Homo sapiens: one gene and its partners. The protein of the gene in region 1 interacts with the protein of each later gene in a pairwise test. Each region holds a gene or a part of one and is shown in the gene's direction. Other genes may lie near its edges.

Evidence for each region. Proteins that work in one complex are often made in the same cells at the same time.
Region 2: the proteins of OTX2 (region 1) and KLF3 interact in binary tests that used the Homo sapiens proteins (3 or more experiments, as listed by UniProt).
Region 3: the proteins of OTX2 (region 1) and TENT5B interact in binary tests that used the Homo sapiens proteins (3 or more experiments, as listed by UniProt).

What each region holds. Positions count from the first base shown.
Region 1 is NC_000014.9:56,800,454-56,807,483, reverse strand, and holds part of OTX2 (homeobox protein OTX2), read left to right. Parts: intron 1-1,816; exon of another isoform or gene 1,817-1,908; 5' UTR 1,909-2,027; coding exon 2,028-2,124; intron 2,125-3,120; coding exon 3,121-3,296; intron 3,297-5,128; coding exon 5,129-5,749; 3' UTR 5,750-7,030. UniProt on the Homo sapiens protein: Transcription factor probably involved in the development of the brain and the sense organs. Can bind to the bicoid/BCD target sequence (BTS): 5'-TCTAATCCC-3'.
Region 2 is NC_000004.12:38,667,169-38,674,198, forward strand, and holds part of KLF3 (Krueppel-like factor 3), read left to right. Parts: intron 1-7,030. UniProt on the Homo sapiens protein: Binds to the CACCC box of erythroid cell-expressed genes. May play a role in hematopoiesis.
Region 3 is NC_000001.11:27,004,520-27,009,880, reverse strand, and holds the end of TENT5B (terminal nucleotidyltransferase 5B), read left to right. Parts: intron 1-2,923; coding exon 2,924-3,937; 3' UTR 3,938-4,861; downstream 4,862-5,361. UniProt on the Homo sapiens protein: Catalyzes the transfer of one adenosine molecule from an ATP to an mRNA poly(A) tail bearing a 3'-OH terminal group in an ATP hydrolysis-dependent manner.

The sequences.
Region 1 (7,030 bases):
GGTGAGAGCTCTACATGTAAGAACATTTCCATATTTCTCAAGGGTACATCTGATATGATTTTACGATTCTCTATAGCACTGTAGTTCAGAATTTTGCAAGGTAGTACGATTAAACAAAAAATCTCCAATCTCCAGTTTAGAGGCTGTTTAAACACATATACAACTGTATTTTAAAGCTGTCGCATATGTGTTTAAACAGCCTCTAAGCTGGAGATTTTTGTTTATTTTCGCAGCCTCCAAAGAACAGCATTTTGAAAAGAAAAGACAATACAAAAACATAAAGTCTGTATTGTAGGGGCAACTAAATTAGTTGTACTGAGGATAATACAAACTCCTCCAAGAAAGACATTTATAAAATTATATTAAGTTAGATCTTAGGGTAGAAAAGCATGACTTTTGTGCTCTGAATTTAAATCAGAAAGAAGTTGCAGTTACTAAGTTTCATTTATGGACTTTTGTGCCTTGCTGTCTTAAGCAACGTAAATATGAAAACCCGGAGTCCTTTAAAGTCAGTGAGACCTTTATCTTGTATCCGCCATTTTGAAGCAATCTCTCATGGTGTCAAAGTTTCAAAGTAGAGATCCTTGCATATAAGTGCCACATTTTAGGAAAATAAAGGCCAGACTTGCAAACTGCCAGTCTATATTAACATCTACTTTGAATCTCTTTGCTGGGGTGGAGGCGGGGAGCTCAGCTGAAGAAAGTAAATAACTTTTCTTTTTCTTCCTTTCTTTTCCCCCTTGAGCTCTTTTTCTTATAGGATTGTAGGAAACTTGAAAGGTAGGGAGAAATTCTACTAGTTTCACAACTTTGGGTGTTTGTGTATCTACTTTCTTCAAAACTAAAATGTGCAAAAGGCAGTTAGAGTTAACAGGAAACTCTGCTGCAGCTGCCGAGGACCCAAATGTCTGAAAATTTGCCTCCCGCAGGATCTGCAGCCTCCACACATCAAAATCAACATGGAAGCAGCTTGCACTACAAATGTGGGGTCCCGTCATTATCTGATTGGTGGGATTCTAACTTTACTTCACAATTTCTGGCAAGCCCTGTGCCAATCTTGAAGACTTTTTTGGAATATGCTTAAATATTTGATGGGTGTCTATTAAAAGTTAAATACTTGTTTGTTTAGCTTTCGTTCCTTAGACACATATAATCAAGATTCTCCAAAACCCTAATAAATCTGTTACTTACCTCGAAATCTAATTACCCAGACTACTAATTAGGTGAAAATGATTACCGGAAATGACTTCAAATGTGGAATAATAGTGGTTGAGCGGTTTTTCCAAGTTTGTGGTTTAGTGAGTTGGTATTTTAGATGTTAAACGCACTGACATTTTAGGTTCGCAGCAGTTGAAAGTGGTAAAAAGCTAAGATAATTAAAATCTCTGCCATGGAAAGGCAACAGTCTGGGGAGAGGTAGATTTCTTGAATTGTTTCTTTGTTTCTCACCAATGGGCTTTGTTATCAGCATTATTTATTTAGCCAAAGAGTTCTTTGTCTCTGCAAATGGCCCCAATCAAGTTTTGTTTGAGACAATTAGCTAGTGCCAGCCAATGAGTCCTATGCAAATGTAGGGATAGGAATGCAATGTGTGCATTTGAAGGCACGGGTTTTTGTTCTTGGGGAAGGCAGATTGTAATTGCTTTCTTCGGGTACTTTTTTTTTTTTTTTAAGTTTAGGGTGGGGGTGGGGAAGACAGGTTTATCTGGTCTCCTTCCATCCCCTCTAGTTCCAGAGCAGCTGGGGGTGGGGGTGGGGATGGGGGTGGGGGGAGTGTCTGCAAGTCCTTTAAAAGCCTCTGCCTCGCCTAGTCCGTGCTCTTTTTAAGTTAGTGCTGGAACGTGGAAGAGCTGCTGCCTCCGAAGCAGTAAACCAGCCCCTCTGTTTGTTTGTTTGCTTTGCCCTTAGTTCCACTGCTCCAAACCCACCCACCAAGGACTCTGAACCTGTCCACCCCGGGCGCATCAAGATCTTCCAGCTGGGTACCCCCGATTTGGGCCGACTTTGCACCTCCAAACAACCTTAGCATGATGTCTTATCTTAAGCAACCGCCTTACGCAGTCAATGGGCTGAGTCTGACCACTTCGGGTATGGACTTGCTGCACCCCTCCGTGGGCTACCCGGGTAAGTGAGCCCTGCTGCACTCCCGCACCCCTCTTCCCCATGCCCACCCTCCGGGGATGCAACACCCTGTTCCCATGGAACACGGGGGTTGGCAGTCACACTGTCCCCACCCAGCTTCAGGCTTGGTCTCCTCTAGGTTTGCCTTCTGAGGAAGCAGTCCCAGGGCATTTACTGACCAAGCAGAGAACAGGGGTTGGGAAAAGTGAGTAGGTGGGTCTGCAACCGTTACAATCACATCACTTTATTCTTAATTCGAGTAAATAAGGATTGGCATCAGAGTGGGATGAGGAAGGTTACTGTCCTTGTCATTTGGGCAAAAGACCCCTACCCATATCTCAATGACCAATTCCTCAGAAGTGTCCTCTTGGAGAAGCTGAGTTTTCCCTCCGTAAGTCCTTAGCACTCTCGGGCTTCGCAGTTGTTCCCTCCATGCCCAGGCCTTCCCCTATGACCTCCAGAGCCTGCTTTAATCCCAAGAGGCGTGACTTCCTCCAAATGCGGGTGCTTTCCTTTCCAATCAGATATGTTTAAAAATCCTCCCAGGAGTATGAACTATGTCCCCATTTTAAAGATGGAGGAACAAAGGCCCATGGTGTGCTAAAAACCATGGGAACAGGATCCAGATTTCCCCCATCAATTCGAGCTGCCAGTCTGTCCTCGGAGATCCTTTGACTTCTTGGAATAGCCTTTTTGTGTTGTGGTTTGGGGGTTGATCTTGGAGAACTTTTTTGTGTGTCTTTTAAAAAATGTTTCATTTGTTAACTTTCCAAGTGATGCTCTGATTGGAGCAATCTCAACACCAAGAAGAGTAGGGAAAGAAGCAGCGTGTGTCCTGGGTCCCCGGGGAGCAAGGCTGGGGAGACGGTGGGGAGAGCATTGGTAGGCTCCCGGCTGAAGGGCTGTGAGGAACGGGGGACTGCTGCGGGGTGGAGGGCAGGGGCGTCGGAGAACCCGCGGAAACGCCTATGACTGAGAAACTGCTCCCCCACCCTAAAGGGCCCTGGGCTTCTTGTCCCGCAGCCACCCCCCGGAAACAGCGCCGGGAGAGGACGACGTTCACTCGGGCGCAGCTAGATGTGCTGGAAGCACTGTTTGCCAAGACCCGGTACCCAGACATCTTCATGCGAGAGGAGGTGGCACTGAAAATCAACTTGCCCGAGTCGAGGGTGCAGGTAGGGCAGATGCAGGCAGAACCATCCTTCCTGATCATGCCACCCTTCCCGAGTATGGGACTGTGGAGAGCCCCAGGTCTTTCAGAGGACTGAAGGAAGGCTTGAAATTCTCCTTCACTCACTAAGGGGCCAGGAAACTATTCTCCTTCTGCCCTTTTTTGCCTGCCCGTCACCACTTAATCCCGTAAGCAAGGGTCTTCAAGGCCCGGGTTGCTGGTGGAGAGAGACCCATCCTTGAGCAGGTTTCAAGAGTAGTCACGTGGTGTTGTAACCCTTCCCTTCCTCTGTATAGAAATCCTCTCCTATTCTCATGGACTTGTACGTGTGAAAGCAGCTTAGCTCTTGGACAGTCCAAGTATTTTTACAGATGAAAAAATAGAGTAAATGACTTGCTCAAGGTCATAACTAAGTTTGGTGGCAGAGTCAGGGTATAGACGCAGCTGGTGCTTTTACCAAATAAATCAACACAAAAAGAATGTATTTTCCTTGACTTCTTAGGGATTGAAGAGAATTTTCTAGTTCTGAGCCATTTAACAGATAAAATATCTACATAATGTCTCTAGTGACACCCCTCTTGTTTTAGTTCCCCTAAACTTGACCTTAAACTGGAGAGGGAAGGTCAACTCCAGCTTGCCTTGTGAGTGAGCCCTGTACAGAATTCTCTGCAAAGTGTTTAGCACATAAACCACATACACACCTGGGCCTCTCCTTCGGCTAGAATATGTTTATGAAAGCGACAGACATCAGTGTCAGCTGCAAATTGGGAAAGGGGCTTTTTCAAAGTAGGTTAGAGGAAGTTTTAGCACTTGCAAGGCTTGAACCAAAGTCCTCACTAGGAGAAAACAAATGGCTCCAAATGGTTGGTGGTCTTGAGCTTGGCCTTGGTGGCCTCACTTTTACCACAGTTACGGCACCCATACAGAGAGCTCATTCAAAAGTTCAGCTAAGGATTTGTCCTCCAGAAAATGCCAGTAGTTCCTCTTCTAAGCCCCCTCGTACACCAATCATAGCTCCTTCATTGCAGAACATGAACAGGGCTGGTAAAGAGAATTGTCAAGATTGCAGCAGGGGGTTGAAGTGGTAAGTCAGTAAACACAGCACAGGAGACTGAGTCTATGTGCTGAGTGGCACTACTCTAACAACACAGACTCGAGTCCCAGAGACTAGCAGGTCTGTGCTCCAGCTCAAAGCAGAGTGCATGTAAGTCACTCCTTTTACCACAAAGAAGCTTTTAGCAAATAGTGGCTTTCAGACCTCTTTCTTCAACAAGATCATGTCTTCCCCTTGGAGCTTTGTTCTGTGAGTCTTTCTAAGAGAGACAGAAGGGTGATGGAACCAACCAACCTCTATATTAGCAGTTGCTTCCTGGAAGATGAACTGTAAATGAATTTAGGCTGTTCCTGTTAGCCTGTAACAACAGAATTGCTTTCTCTCACTTCTCATGTATTTCCCTCCAAAAGACAGAGATACATTCTATTCCTCTGTGAGAGTGTTCCAAAATATAGCTGGGTCTATGTGTATGTGTGTGTTAGAGGCGAAATAAGATAGGAAAGTGATGTGGAGAGTTTTTAGCTATATGATTTGGGGGATTATCTTAAATGTTATTCTGGGCAAGAAATAAGACAGTGTCAAGTGTTTTTAGACAGAGCCTCCCCAACTTTCTTACAAGTCCAGGAGTTTATATGAGAGTACCACATAATAGGTCTTCAGTGGCAGGGGAAATTGTGTGTTTAGCTGATCTGCCCATGTAGGATAGATTTATAATACGGGAGCCATTCTTGTCCTTAAGGAACTATCAAAACCGAGTTAAAGAATTTTCTTTCCCTTCCAAGGTATGGTTTAAGAATCGAAGAGCTAAGTGCCGCCAACAACAGCAACAACAGCAGAATGGAGGTCAAAACAAAGTGAGACCTGCCAAAAAGAAGACATCTCCAGCTCGGGAAGTGAGTTCAGAGAGTGGAACAAGTGGCCAATTCACTCCCCCCTCTAGCACCTCAGTCCCGACCATTGCCAGCAGCAGTGCTCCTGTGTCTATCTGGAGCCCAGCTTCCATCTCCCCACTGTCAGATCCCTTGTCCACCTCCTCTTCCTGCATGCAGAGGTCCTATCCCATGACCTATACTCAGGCTTCAGGTTATAGTCAAGGATATGCTGGCTCAACTTCCTACTTTGGGGGCATGGACTGTGGATCATATTTGACCCCTATGCATCACCAGCTTCCCGGACCAGGGGCCACACTCAGTCCCATGGGTACCAATGCAGTCACCAGCCATCTCAATCAGTCCCCAGCTTCTCTTTCCACCCAGGGATATGGAGCTTCAAGCTTGGGTTTTAACTCAACCACTGATTGCTTGGATTATAAGGACCAAACTGCCTCCTGGAAGCTTAACTTCAATGCTGACTGCTTGGATTATAAAGATCAGACATCCTCGTGGAAATTCCAGGTTTTGTGAAGACCTGTAGAACCTCTTTTTGTGGGTGATTTTTAAATATACTGGGCTGGACATTCCAGTTTTAGCCAGGCATTGGTTAAAAGAGTTAGATGGGATGATGCTCAGACTCATCTGATCAAAGTTCCGAGAGGCATAGAAGGAAAAACGAAGGGCCTTAGAGGGGCCTACAAACCAGCAACATGAAATGGACAAACCAATCTGCTTAAGATCCTGTCATAGTTTTAGATCATTGGTTATCCTGATTTGCAAAGTGATCAAAAGCATTCTAGCCATGTGCAACCAAACACCACCAAAAATAAAATCAAACAAAACTAAGTTGTGAAGGAAGGGAGGGAAGGTCATAGCCTTCTTAAGCAGAGGTGTTCCATTGTTTTAGCCAATCCTTGGTTGAATCTTAGGAATGAACAGTGTCTCAAGCTCATTCACGTTTCATGACCAACTGGTAGTTGGCACTGAAAAAACTTTTCAGGGCTGTGTGAATTGTGTGACTGATTGTCCTAGATGCACTACTTTATTTAAAAAATAATGTTCATAAGGAGTCAATATGTAGTTTAAGAGACAATCAGTGTGTGTCTTATAAATGGTACATCTGTGGTTTTTAATCTGTGCTAGACTTCAAAACTGTGATCTCCTGTTATTGTATGCAACCTTGAACTCCACCTCTGCAGGGGTTCTTCTGTGATTAAATAGGTTATAATTATAAGCAAAATTCAGAGCAACTGAGTACTGATCTAAAAAGATTACCTTTGGCTGGAGGTGAGCTGCACTGAAACTTTACGACAAAATGTCTCTGGACAAAGAGAGTCAGAGAAGAGAAGCAAAAGGACACTAATTCATCTGTAATTTACTGTTGGTAAGCCTAGCAGTAAAGAGACATTGGTCAATTGCTCTGACCCTGATGAATTATTAAACTGAGATCATTGTCGTTTATGCTTGCAGATGTTAAATGGAAAAGTTATATATGCATAAACCTTTTCTTCCTGGATTTGGCAGATATGTATAATTATATTAAAATGGTTCTAGCACAACATTGGGTCCAGTTTAATTTTACACCGCTATTTATGAATAAGAAGCCTACATTCAGCCTTTCCTCCCCAAAACACGTTTTTCTTAGGACAGAGAGTAAATTAGCAAACTTATTTTTACTTTTTTTTTTTGCTAATCTATGCATAAAATAGATATGAATGACAGTGGTAGGTAGACTTTTTGTGACTTTCATCAGGATTGCTCTGAAATTGAGTTTGGAGAGCCTAACAACAAGATCTTGTTTTCCTTGCTTTT
Region 2 (7,030 bases), on another chromosome or scaffold:
TAAAAAACTCCAGCTGCTCATGAATATAGGGTCAGGGAGGGCCGGCTAAATGTTTCTCTGTGCTTTCTCTCCAGCACAGCCAGCAGAGCTGTTTCCTGTTCTTTGTTTCAAGGCTGGGGTTTGCGTCATACATTCCAAGTGGCATATGTGTGCTCTTTCCTGTTTCAGGCTGTTTTCTGGTAGATCAGTAGCCCAGACCAGGCTGAGGTCCCTGCCCCTAAACTCCGTATCCCCACCCATGGAGTTATCATGTCTCTACACACTTGATATTGCTTAAGACGCCTGTGTTATGTCATAATGAGAAGTCAGTTAACCTTTTTACGTACACCCTTTGCTCCACTGCATTTGTCTGGGTGAATAAATGCTTTTACCTTTTTAAATTTTTTATTGCTAGATTGTGATTTGGGGAAACGTGGGTCCATCCTGGCAAAGAAACCTAAAGGAGTTTTGTTTGTATTTGTTTGTAATTCTTGTGTTGAAGTGGTTAGGGCGTTTGTTTTAAGATAGGCATTTTGCCCTGAAGCTGTCAATTTTGGATCAGGATTAACACCTTACAGTTTAGAAGACCTAGCATTATCTGAAAGATGTGGCCCACCCTCGTTCACGTTTAACCCAGGCTGCTCCAGGTGGCTTCCGTGGATGGAGAATTTAAGCAATGTTGGCAGCCTGGCTTTAGTTTAAGTCTTGCTTATGTTTGGAAGGAGAAATCTTTAGAAAAATCATTGAAGCAAAGCCTAAGACATTGAGAAAATCCCGGGATTATTTCTTTTTAAGGACAAAGATTTAAATATCAGGATAATGTTTTAAGGACAAAGATTTCACTGTGCAATATTCTACACCTCATTTCCAACCCGTTTTTAAGAATTAAAAAGCTCAAAGGAGAACTGGCATTAACAAATTCATTTAATGCTAGATTGTTTGGAAAATTTTAATCTTCTATTTTGAAAACAAGAAGAATGCTCTTCTCATTTTTGTTTTACAATAATATTTTTCATTTTTTAAAAATATTCTATCAGTTGTGGGTTAATGAATTTCTAGGATAACTATTTAAGACCTGCCTTAATATTAGTTTTCTGTTGGTTCTTGAGAAACTAAGATTTAAGGAAATATTTGCTTGAAAAAGAAAAGTTTTGGAAAGTGCTTTTGTAAACTTACTTGGGGATTTTTTTTTTTTAATCAAAAGGAATCATCTACAGCATCTCTGTGGAATTAATTTAAAGAGTTGCTGAAGCAGCAAATCAGGCTCTCTTCTCCCCAAAATTGATGATAATGGTGCGTTTTAAATGTCACATTCCACCACATTCTTTATGTATAAATGGAAAATATAAAATATGATATTAAGAGAGTTATTAGTATCAAATAGTTGGCTACTGATAACCTTCTATGAAAAAAGCTGGGAGTTTTAGAAGTCCCAATAACTTCTTTCTCCTTTGGGAAAAGCAGCTGGAAATACTTAGCTGACCTGTAGGACAAGAGACTTTTAAGCTTAAAATTCATAAGTAACTCCAATCGAAGCAGGTTTTTTTGTTTGTTTTGGTTCCAAAGTTGTTAACAATCTAACTAGGTTTGGTAAACAGAGTCTTTATTTGGCTTTCCCCAAATTCTTTCTTCTCTCTTTTGCAGGGAGATGAAGTGGTTAATAGAGATAATTAGGGTCTAATATATTCTATCAGAAAAAAATTCTGCAAGCTTCTAAATGCTAAGCTGAATAGTTGGGGAAAATTATCCTATCTTATAGTTGCTATGATTACCAGAAAGATGGGAACAAGAGTTTTAATTTCTTAACCATATAAATCATGATTCCTAATTTAATTTCATTGTGTCTCCATCGCCCCTTGAGATACTTGCCTTCTTAATATTTTCAAATCAACATTTTTGCTATAAAACGACAGATTTCTTAGGCAGCATTTCTTGTTCTCTGTTTTCACACCCAGTTGAGTTTAAGAAAAATAAAATACACACAACCTCATTCTTTAAGGTACTAGGAATTACAATTACATTATTCTGGAACTTGGATTCTTTCTGAAGTGCATCATTTATCATTGGTTCTAGCTTTTTAAAAAAGCAAATCCCTAGAATCTTAAAACAATTGATATCTAGTTTGCTAGTATGTGATATTCTAGTCAGAATTCCTCTTGGGAGTGAGTTGGAAGAGGGTTATGGTGGTCGCTAGCATTCTCATTTTCAAGACCACTCTGTTCCTTTCTTAGACCATGTTTCTCATCTTAAGCAGTCATGCCCGAGCTGGAGACAGGAAACCAGACAGCAGTCTGCCCTGATAAGGGACAGCATTGTCTGAAGGCGGGGAATAGCCCTGCTTTTACCCCCAACTCAGCTCTCTTTGCTTGAAATTTAGTAGTCATAGAAGAGGCACAATGCTGTTGACAGTTTCTGAACCAAAACTAGGATTCATTTCTTCCAAAGCAAAAAAATAGTGTCCTCGGCCGGGCGCGGTGGCTCACACCTGTAATTTCAGCACTTTGGGAGGCCGAAGTGGGTGGATCACCTGAGGTCAGGAGTTCGAGACCAGCCTAGCCAACATGGCAAAACCCCATCTTTACTAAAAGTACAAAAATTATCCGGGCGTGGTGGTGGGCGCCTGTAATCCCAGCTACTCAGGAGGCTGAGGCAGGAGAATTGCCTGAACCTGGGAGGTGGAGGTTGCAGTGAGCCGAGATTGTGCCACTGCACTGCAGCCTGGGCAACAAGAGTGAGACTCTGTCTCAAAAAAAAAAAAAAAAAAAAAAAAAAAAAAGATGTCCTCTTAACTGGCCTTGTCCTTATTCTGTAATGAATGTGACCATATTCTCTGGAACAGTAAGAAAATAAAAAAATGATCTGTGCATTTTGTATCCGTTGGCCAGAGAGTTTGTAGTAAAATTGTTTCTTTAGCAAAACAGGCTCCTGGAGGTTTTTGAAACTCACTCCATTGTGTCGGCAGGCTGAATTCATTATCATTTCTCCATCTAATTATTTAGAAGGGCTGGAGACAGAAGAGAGCAAGTTAAGTGGCCCTCTAGCCCATGCATTTCATGTAACCCCTGGGTCTGGCTCTTACCCTGTTTCCTGTAAGGGGGCGCTCCCTGAGGCAGACCCTTTGCAGGAGGACCCAGAATTGCCCTGCTTAGTCTGGGACATCCTCAGGATGGTTGCCAGTCTCTGGAAGGCTTGTGGATCCTGCCAGGGATGGCCCAGAGCTAGTCTCAACCCAAATCAGTGGAGTTTGGCCAAATCTGGACATAAGAGATCAAATGAGTATTGAGGTCAGCGGATTCTGCCCTGGAGAGCGACCTGCAAATCAAGTGTGGGGTTTTTTCTCTGGCCTATATGCTGTTCTTTCTACTACCACTGTTGTTTAAGTGTAATCACTGAAATCCACTCCTTTATCTGTTCCTGTACTTTGCATCCCTGGTACCTTCCAAAGCTTCACACTCCAAAGCCTCTTTCATTTGTAAGATCGAGTTCCTGTTCCGCTGAGTTTCCAAACCAGGGAGTTTTTCTCTCCCAGGCTCCCAAAGTTTTCACATTTACTTTGCATTTTAGAAGATGAGGTTTCAGGCTGGCTTCACCAGCCGCTGGACAGAGTTTCCATGTAGGACACCTGGTGTACCATCATTCCAGGGCCCTTGCCCTTAATTTATCCTAGCATGTGAGAAGTGTAGTTTGACATCCATTCATTTATTCATCTCACAAGTATTTATTGAGTACCTACTTATTAGAGCTAATCTCAAATTATGTGCAATCATTACTCTGAGTTATGCCATAGGATGGAGTAGATCTACAGTGATCTAACCTGAAAAGGCATTTTGAAATCTTAATTGCCTGCTGGAACCTCCCCCTGGCACTGCTTCCCATGGGCCAGTGTGGCTGTGCACACCCACACCCTCCCTACTGGGGAAAGACCCCAGCATTAGGCGATTTTACCTAAAAGTCGGTCCCACAGCACAGGCTCTGAAGCAGAACAGAAAGTGCCCGGGTCTGCAGGCAGACACGCTTCTGTTCCTGGCTGCAGCTCCAACCAGCTCTGTGAAATTGGGCGAGTCATTTCACCTCTGTTCCTCCATTTCCTCATTTCTAAAATGGGGATGAGGACCTGACCCTTCCACCTTTGTGCAGTTATTATGAGGATTTCCGTATTTACTTGGGTCAAGCTGCCAATTTTTCTCAGCAGTTATATCGACAATGCAGGTGCACTGGCTAGGAAGAATAATTGCCTAATTTGGGGCCTTCAGAATGTGTCTTTTGATCTTGCATCCAAGTGTGCGTACTGAGACAGGGTGGGCAGCAGGGGCCAGTTGGAAGGAGTGGAAACTGTCACTAATGTAAACAGACTGTCCCCACGTTCTGTCTTCTCCGGGGACCAACCTGTTCACAGAAATCACTATCATGTACTTACTGTTGGTGGTGTAATGTTGTCCTCTGCCTGGGGAGGTGGAAGAGTGGTGTGCCAAGGCCACCAGTCTTAAGTCAGACTACCTTGGGTTCAAGTCCTGGCTCTACGAGTTAGCAGCTGTGTGATGTTAGGCAGGTTACTTGACCTCTCTGTTTCAGTGTTCTTTTCAGTAAAACGGGAAGGTAGTAACCACCTCATTGACATTAAACAGCGCCTGGGGATTGCCAATCACGAAGGTGGTGGTGATTGGCAGGAAACCTGTGACATCACTTAGCCCCTTGCCTTCCTTGATCCCTTTTCAAAAACCTGTGTTTGTGCACACACCCCTTCCCCTTGCAGTTCCCCCCCACCTGCCTCCTCTCCTCCCTTTCTCGCTTTCTTTTTTCTATTTTAGATTTTAAAGTACAGTAGAGACCTCGACACTAGACTTGTTTAGAAGACCTCACTGAGTGGATAATAATAAATTATTTGAAGATGGTACTAATAAGGTCTCTGGAGTACACATGATGGGCCAGGCTAAGGTTAGGGGCAATAACTTTTCCTTAGGAAGTTTGGTTTACTAGGTCTCCCTTAGAGTTAGGCCCTTCATCCCTATTACTTGTTTAAGGGAGATTTCAAGTGCATTCAGAGGGAAAGGGAGATGATTGTGGAACTCCTACTATAAGCTAAGTGCTCTTATGTTAGCTCCTTAGGCTTGACATAAAAACTTCATTCAGGGAACAAGCCCGATCTCCTGTGGGGAGTGGGGAGGGAGCCCTCTCAGGAAGGCTGAGGCCTGCCTGTCTGTCCTTCCCAGTACTGGTGGCGGTGTGGGACGCACCACTGGGAAAGCTAAGAGGCCTAGACTATCTAGGTAAGAAGAGGCGGCCTTGGATCCCCCAGGGAGCAATCAGCTGGCTGCACAGAGTGGGGAGGGCCTTGAGCTGGTCTTTGAAGAATTAGGGGGATTTAGATAAGCCGGAAGGGGAGGGGGCATTCCATTGCCGGTTGCCCAGCATCAGGGCCAAAAATGAACAAAGGCCTGGGGGTGGGCAGGGCAGCCGGCATGAAGGGCACTTGTTGGAGCAGGGGGCAGCTCGTGGGTAACGGGGTGCCAAGCATGGGTGCCTGAGCCCACTGTCAGACCCGGGGAGTGCACGGGAGGGAAGGTTGTGAGCTGGAGAAGGATGGGATGAGAAGAGATCTGTGAAAAACGTGGGTGGCAAGGGGTGAGGGCTGGACTGGAGAGGCTGAGGGAGACCAGTGGTGGAAAAGCTGCAGCAATGCAGGTGGGAGGCGCTGAGGGCCTGGCCCCCAAGGCAGGAGGGGAGAGCAAAGGAGGTGAGGAAGGCTTCAGAGATGGCCTCTAGGTTTCCATGGTGAAGGACCAGAAAATAAGGCCAATGGGAGGCGGGGAGGGGGCAGCCTTAGAGGCAGGAACAAGGAGGGGTAGGGTTGGTTTGGGCCACGTTGATAGCAGTGGTTCAAAATGCTTTTCTCTTTCTTTTCTGCTTATTTTTAAAGGGAGAGGGTAGGCTTCGCTCATGGTTTTGTATCCAAAGTTTCAGTGGCTCTCTGGGAGGAACTTCAGTGGAGAATCCTCAGGAGCAGAGGAATGATCACAGCCCCATGGTTCCTTCTGGTTATTTTTAAGATTCTAACCATCCCTGTTCAGGCCGGAATTTCCAGGAACTGGCTGCTGCCCAGCGCCAACTGGTCCCTCCCAACCTCCCACTCCCTGCAGGGTGGGGCCCCATGGGTGGAGGCTCCTTAGGGTGGAGTTGGGTGGGTCTCCAGTGATAGGGAGGGCACTGAGCAGAGGCAGATGAGAGGCAGTGTGGCCTCACGCAGCCCTTCTGGATTTGATTATATAACACTTCATAGAGGAGAATTGTGAGGGCTTAGGCGAGGCCTTGTGAGATATGTACACAGCAGGATTAGACATTATGGGTATTTTTCAATTTATCTTGGGTTGCCTGCCCTTAAAACTAAAACACAAAATTGTCAGAGAGCATAAACAAGTGTGTAACCCTAGTAGGGAAAATGATTCGAGTTTGCTGCAGTTTCTCTAAGAAGGGTGTGGAATGCCACTAGCCAGATGGCCTTGAACTTAGAGGGTAGCATAGGTGTGGGTGTCCCCGCCCCCAGCCCTGCTTTGCTAGGCCTCAGTTTGGAAACTTGTCAGGCTTCTGCTTGGTTGTTACCTTTGCACCTGTCCTTATTGACATGCAAAATCAATTGCTTCACTTGGTCTTTCCGAAGTACAGGGTGTGGGCAGAATCTTATCTGAAGCCATGTCCTGTTTGGACAAGTTGGACTTGCCTTGGCAACTCTCCATAGGGTGGAGCAGATGGGTGGAGGCAGGAAAGTAAAATTGGGTGGCTTGTTAGCAGAGAGAGGAGAGAGGGTGGGTTGTTTGCTCACTGGATCATTATATTTCATCTGAAATGAAATAATTAACTTCTTTCCCATTTATAATACACATTAATGCAAAATAACTAATTCATGAGGGGCGAAGATTTAGAAACACCCCATGGAATTTTTCTCCTTTTCAAACCAGTCATAGAAGAGTAGGACAGGTGAAAATCACAGAGTGGCATGAAAATTTCCAAGAATGTCTAGGTAGGAAATTCCAGGTAGGTGCCAGTGCTTAGCTTT
Region 3 (5,361 bases), on another chromosome or scaffold:
TCTGCCAAACTGGCTGTAGTCACACCTGGGAAGGAGACAACAGCGACTGGCTGGCTGACACAGCTGGCCCCATGGCCCTGACGCAGGGGATTTAACAAGAGTACTGCTACCTACTCACTAGGCCAGATGCCAAGCCCTGGGGTGGGCACCAGCCTGGGAGCAGGAGCTGGCACTGAGTAAGGCTCAGTCAGCCCTAATGGGATCTGAGGAAGGGGCTGGTCTTCTCTGCAGGTTTGGTAGGGTCCTTGGACCAAGGTCTTTGGCCCATGCAGGCACAGCTGCCAGCTGACAGGGTGTGGGTTAGAAGTCCCACAGGCTGGACTGCAGCAACTGGCCTTGTCTGGCCAAGGCATCTCCCAACCCTCACCTTCCTGTTCCCCAACTATTCTGGCTCTGGGCTTCAGTAGCTTGAGGGTTGCCTTTGCTTTGAAATTTAGAAAGGGAAGGTGGATTAGAACACTAGTCTGCTCCTTCTGAACCCTGGGACTGTAATGTGGTAGAAACAGGATAGGCTTTGCTGTTGGCCATCCCTGGGTTTGAAGGCATCTCCACGTGATCTTGTGCAAGTGACATCACTCCTGTGAGCTTCAGTTTCCCAGGAGACCTGTCCTGGGCCAGGCACAGTGTCTCACGCCTGTAATCCCAGCACTTTGGGAGGCTGAGGCAGGGGAATAGCTTGAGTCCGGGAGTTCGAGACCAGCCTGGGCAATCTGGCAGGATTCCATCACTGTAAACAATAAAAAATTGCTGGGTGTGGTGGCACGCACGCACCTGTAGTCCCACCTACTTGGGAGGCTGAGGTTGCAGTGAGCTGAGATCGTGCCACTGCATTCACTGCATTCCACCCTCAGCTACAAAATCAGGACTCTCTCAAAAAAAAAAAAAAAAAAAAAAAAAAAAAAAGAAGGATGGAGGAAAGGAAGGTAGAGAAGGGTTTGGAAAGGCAGAAAAAAATTCCATATTAAAAAAAAAAAGACTTGGCCTGGCATAGTACCTCATGCCTGTAATCCCAGTACTTCGGGAAGCTGCGGCAGGTGGATCACCTGAGGTCAGGAGTTCAAGACCAGCTTGGCCAACATGGTGAAACCCTCTCTCTACTAAAAATACAAAAATTAGCTGAGTGTGGTGATGGGCGCCTGTAATCCCAACTATTCGGGAGGCTGAGGCAGAAGAATCACTTGAACCTGGGAGGCGGAGGTTGCAGTGAGCTGAGACTGCACCACTGCACTCCAGCCTGGATGACAGACTCAGACTCAAAAAAAAAAAGACACCTGTCCCCATAGATTCTGGCAACAAGGTCCAGTGCTCGGCACTCATTAGATGCCTAGCCTCCTTCTGCCACCCTCTGTGTTCCTGATGGCCAGCTGCTTACGCCCCATTCTCCGTGTTCCTTGTGGCCAGTTGCTTACCCTCCCATTGCCATGACAATATCTTCCCCTGGTAAAGTTGCTCCTCCCGGAAGTCTTCCTGGAGGGCGCCGCCCGCCTCTGATTGCCCCACCACAGCTTGCCTTCTCAGCACTTAGGTGCATTCTTTGTAGTAATTCCCTGGGAGGCAAGGAGAACAGCCTGGTCTGGAGCTGGGTGCTGACTTGGCAGCAAGGCAGGGTTGCAGAATCACTCAGGACAGGAATGCTGCCTGGTCACTTTCAGGACAACTTTGGGTTACTGAGAAAACTGAATGTCCCCAACCCCCAGCTTCACTCTTCTCCCTACCTGGTACCTCAGCGGAGGGACCACTTATAGGTTTATCTGTCCTGTGCCATCAGGCCTGGGGACTGTCTGAAGGCTGAGAGTTTTCACTGAGCCTTAGCTGTTTCACCACTGTAAGCCTCAGTTTCCTCATCCGAGAGCAAAAAAAGTATATAATTTTTGCCTCACTGGGTCCTTGTAAGGATGAGTTAGGATGAGTGCATTGTAGTCAAAAGGACATAGGTGAACTTGAGAATCCCAACTAACCTGGGTTCTGGTCTCAGCCTGACCGCTCTGTGACCTTGACTTTACCTCTCTGCACCTGAGGTCCTCCATCTATCAGTCAAAATAATACTCAAATGTAGGATTATGGGGAGGGTTAATGTGGTCATGAATGTGAACTGCTAACCATATTCCCAACACGTTTGAGCAGTTAGCACAGTGCCTGATACAGAACTGTTTTACTAGCAGTTTGAGAGGTAGAATAGCACGGTTAAGACTTAAACCACCGAGCGCGGTGGCTCACGCCTATAATCCCAGCACTTTGGGAGGTGTGTGGATCACGAGGTCAGGAGTTAAAGACCAGCCTGGCCAAGATGGTGAAACCCTGTCTCTACTAAAAATACAAAAATTAGCCGGGCACAGTGGCAGGCCCCTGTAATCCCAACTACTCGGGAGGCTGAGGCAGGAGAATCACTTGAACTCGGGGGACGGAGGTTGCAGTGAGTCGAGATCACGCCACTGCACTCCAACCTGAGTGGCAAAGTGAGACTCCATCTCAAAAAAAAAAAAAAAGACTTGGACTCGGAGTTTTATTCCCAGCTCTGCATTCACCAGCTGTTTGCCTTTGAGCTAGTTACTTGGCCCCTCTGTACTTCCATTTTTGCATCTGTAAAGTGTGAATAATAGTATCCACCTCACAGGGTTATTGTGAGGATTAAGTGACCTGCTGTTTAGTAAATTCTATGCAGATGTGTGCTATTATCATTGCTATTCTTCCTGAGTCATTCCTCCAGATGGGCCATTCTCAGATTAGGTTTAAAGAGTTAAATGACTCCCCCCCAACCCCCCCACCCCCACCCAATAAAAAAAAAAGTTAAATGATTTTCCAAAGGCATAACAGCTGGTTAGGGGCCAATAGTGGTTGAAGTTACCGTGATAAGTAAACGGAAGTCCTTGGTGGACCCCTGAGGCCCGCTCCTGACACCTCTCCTTCCTGCTCTCCCCTGCAGGTGGTCCGCAGCACCCTGGAGGAGCAGGGACTACATGTGCACAGTGTGCGGCTGCATGGTTCAGCTGCCAGCCACGTGCTGCACCCTGAGAGTGGCCTGGGCTACAAGGATCTGGACCTGGTGTTCCGGGTGGACCTGCGCAGTGAGGCATCCTTCCAGCTGACCAAGGCAGTGGTGCTGGCCTGCCTACTAGACTTCCTGCCGGCCGGTGTGAGCCGGGCCAAGATCACGCCACTGACACTCAAGGAGGCATACGTGCAGAAGCTGGTGAAAGTGTGCACAGACTCGGACCGCTGGAGCCTCATCTCACTGTCCAACAAGAGCGGCAAGAACGTGGAGCTCAAGTTTGTGGACTCGGTGAGACGCCAGTTTGAATTCAGCATAGACTCCTTCCAGATCATCCTGGACTCCCTGTTGCTCTTTGGCCAGTGCTCGTCCACTCCCATGTCTGAGGCCTTCCACCCAACGGTCACAGGCGAAAGCCTGTACGGGGACTTCACCGAGGCCCTGGAGCACCTGCGGCACCGTGTCATCGCCACGCGCAGTCCCGAGGAGATCCGAGGTGGTGGCCTCCTCAAGTACTGCCACCTCCTGGTGCGGGGCTTCCGGCCCCGGCCCAGCACCGATGTGCGCGCCCTGCAGCGCTACATGTGCTCCCGCTTCTTCATCGACTTTCCAGACCTGGTGGAGCAGCGGCGCACCCTAGAGCGCTACCTGGAGGCCCACTTCGGTGGGGCAGATGCAGCCCGCCGTTACGCCTGCCTGGTGACACTGCACCGGGTGGTCAACGAGAGCACCGTGTGCCTCATGAACCACGAGCGCCGCCAGACGCTGGACCTCATTGCCGCACTGGCGCTGCAGGCACTGGCTGAGCAGGGCCCAGCTGCCACTGCCGCCCTGGCCTGGCGCCCTCCAGGCACTGACGGGGTTGTGCCAGCCACTGTCAATTACTACGTGACCCCCGTGCAACCTCTCCTGGCTCACGCCTATCCCACCTGGCTGCCTTGTAACTGACTCAGACCCTGGCCAGAAGGGAAGGGACTGGGCCTCACGGGGTGGGGTGGGGCCTCCAAGAGTGTGTGGAGGACATGACCAGAGGCGCAGAATGTGCCAGGAGGCCCAGCACTGCAGGGTTGGGCCTTTGATTGAACAGACCAGACTTTCCCGAGCACGAGGCCCCTGTGGGCTTAATGCCAGCCTGGGGCTCTCAGCAGGAGGACCCTTTGGTTATTGCATCACACTTTTGGACCAGCATGCCGGTGGGGTGCAGGCGCCATTTGTCTTGGAAGTCAATTTCCTTCAGGAGACAAAGCAAGTTTGGGGTGGTAGCCTTAATGCCCAGCACCTTGGATTGATTCCCATGGTCTAAGAGGGTCTTTTTGACTAAGGCCAGCCTGTGGTGATCCCAGCAGCTTTGGAGGGCCTGCAGCCCACACACTGACTGATACATGGTATGTTACAGGGACTTGTCACTTTGGATCAGGCTGGGCCACTACAGGGCCTGATGGGCCAACTTGGGTAATCACTGGGAGGAGGGAAACTGAGGCCCGAGGCAGATACCTGGGTTTGGGGAGGGCTGGGTTTAGCCCGGTTCTCTGAACTACATACCCCCAGCTGTGAAGCCTTCCTCTTGAGGGGTTGAGGTGGGCAGTATACAGGAGCCAAGCAGCCCAGGGTGGGTCGCAGCCCAGGCCCCTTCCAGGGTGCCACTCCTTTCCCCCTTGTGTTGCAAGGAGCCCTCCTGCCTGGGAGCTTGTTCTTTGGAAGGTGCTGAGCCTGAATTTGCCACAGTCAAGTCAACGTTCCCACCCCACTGGCTTGGTTACAGGGCTCTCACATGGGGTAGGGGAGCCATACTCCCACCCCCTTGCGTATTCCCCTGGGTTTGTTGATATTTTGCACTCTTAACACCTGCCAATAAAGACGGTCTACACTGAACCTTAGTGCCATGCTTCCTCTGGGGAAAGAAGGACCTTCCGTAGCAGTGGGGGTTGCAGCTGCCTCCCCCAGTTGGAGTCTGGCTTGTACTGTGGAAGGGAGCATTTGCGGGGGCGGGGTTTGAAGCCTGGGCTATGGCTGGGGGACTGCCCCTCCTTCTCCCAACCCCAGCCGCAGCCTGACCAGCTGTATATTAAGAGCTGCTGTCTACATGTGTGACCTGCACGTTGCCTTAGCAGGTCTAGGGCTCTTGTTAAGGAGTAAATATTTTTATGTTTTCTACCTGGAATCCAAATAGCTCTGGGCCTAGACTCAGACTCTGGTGCTCAGGGGTACTTGTTCCCAGCTCTGTCTACCCCGTCTCTTCCAAGGGAGCAGCTAGAGAACAGGCTGGGTGAATCTGGACTGGAGGCCCCTCCAGTAAAGGTGGCTGAGACTGGGGAACTTGTAGGGTTCCCCCTAAGCCTGAGCCCAGGTAGGGCCTCTATTTGGGAGAGGCT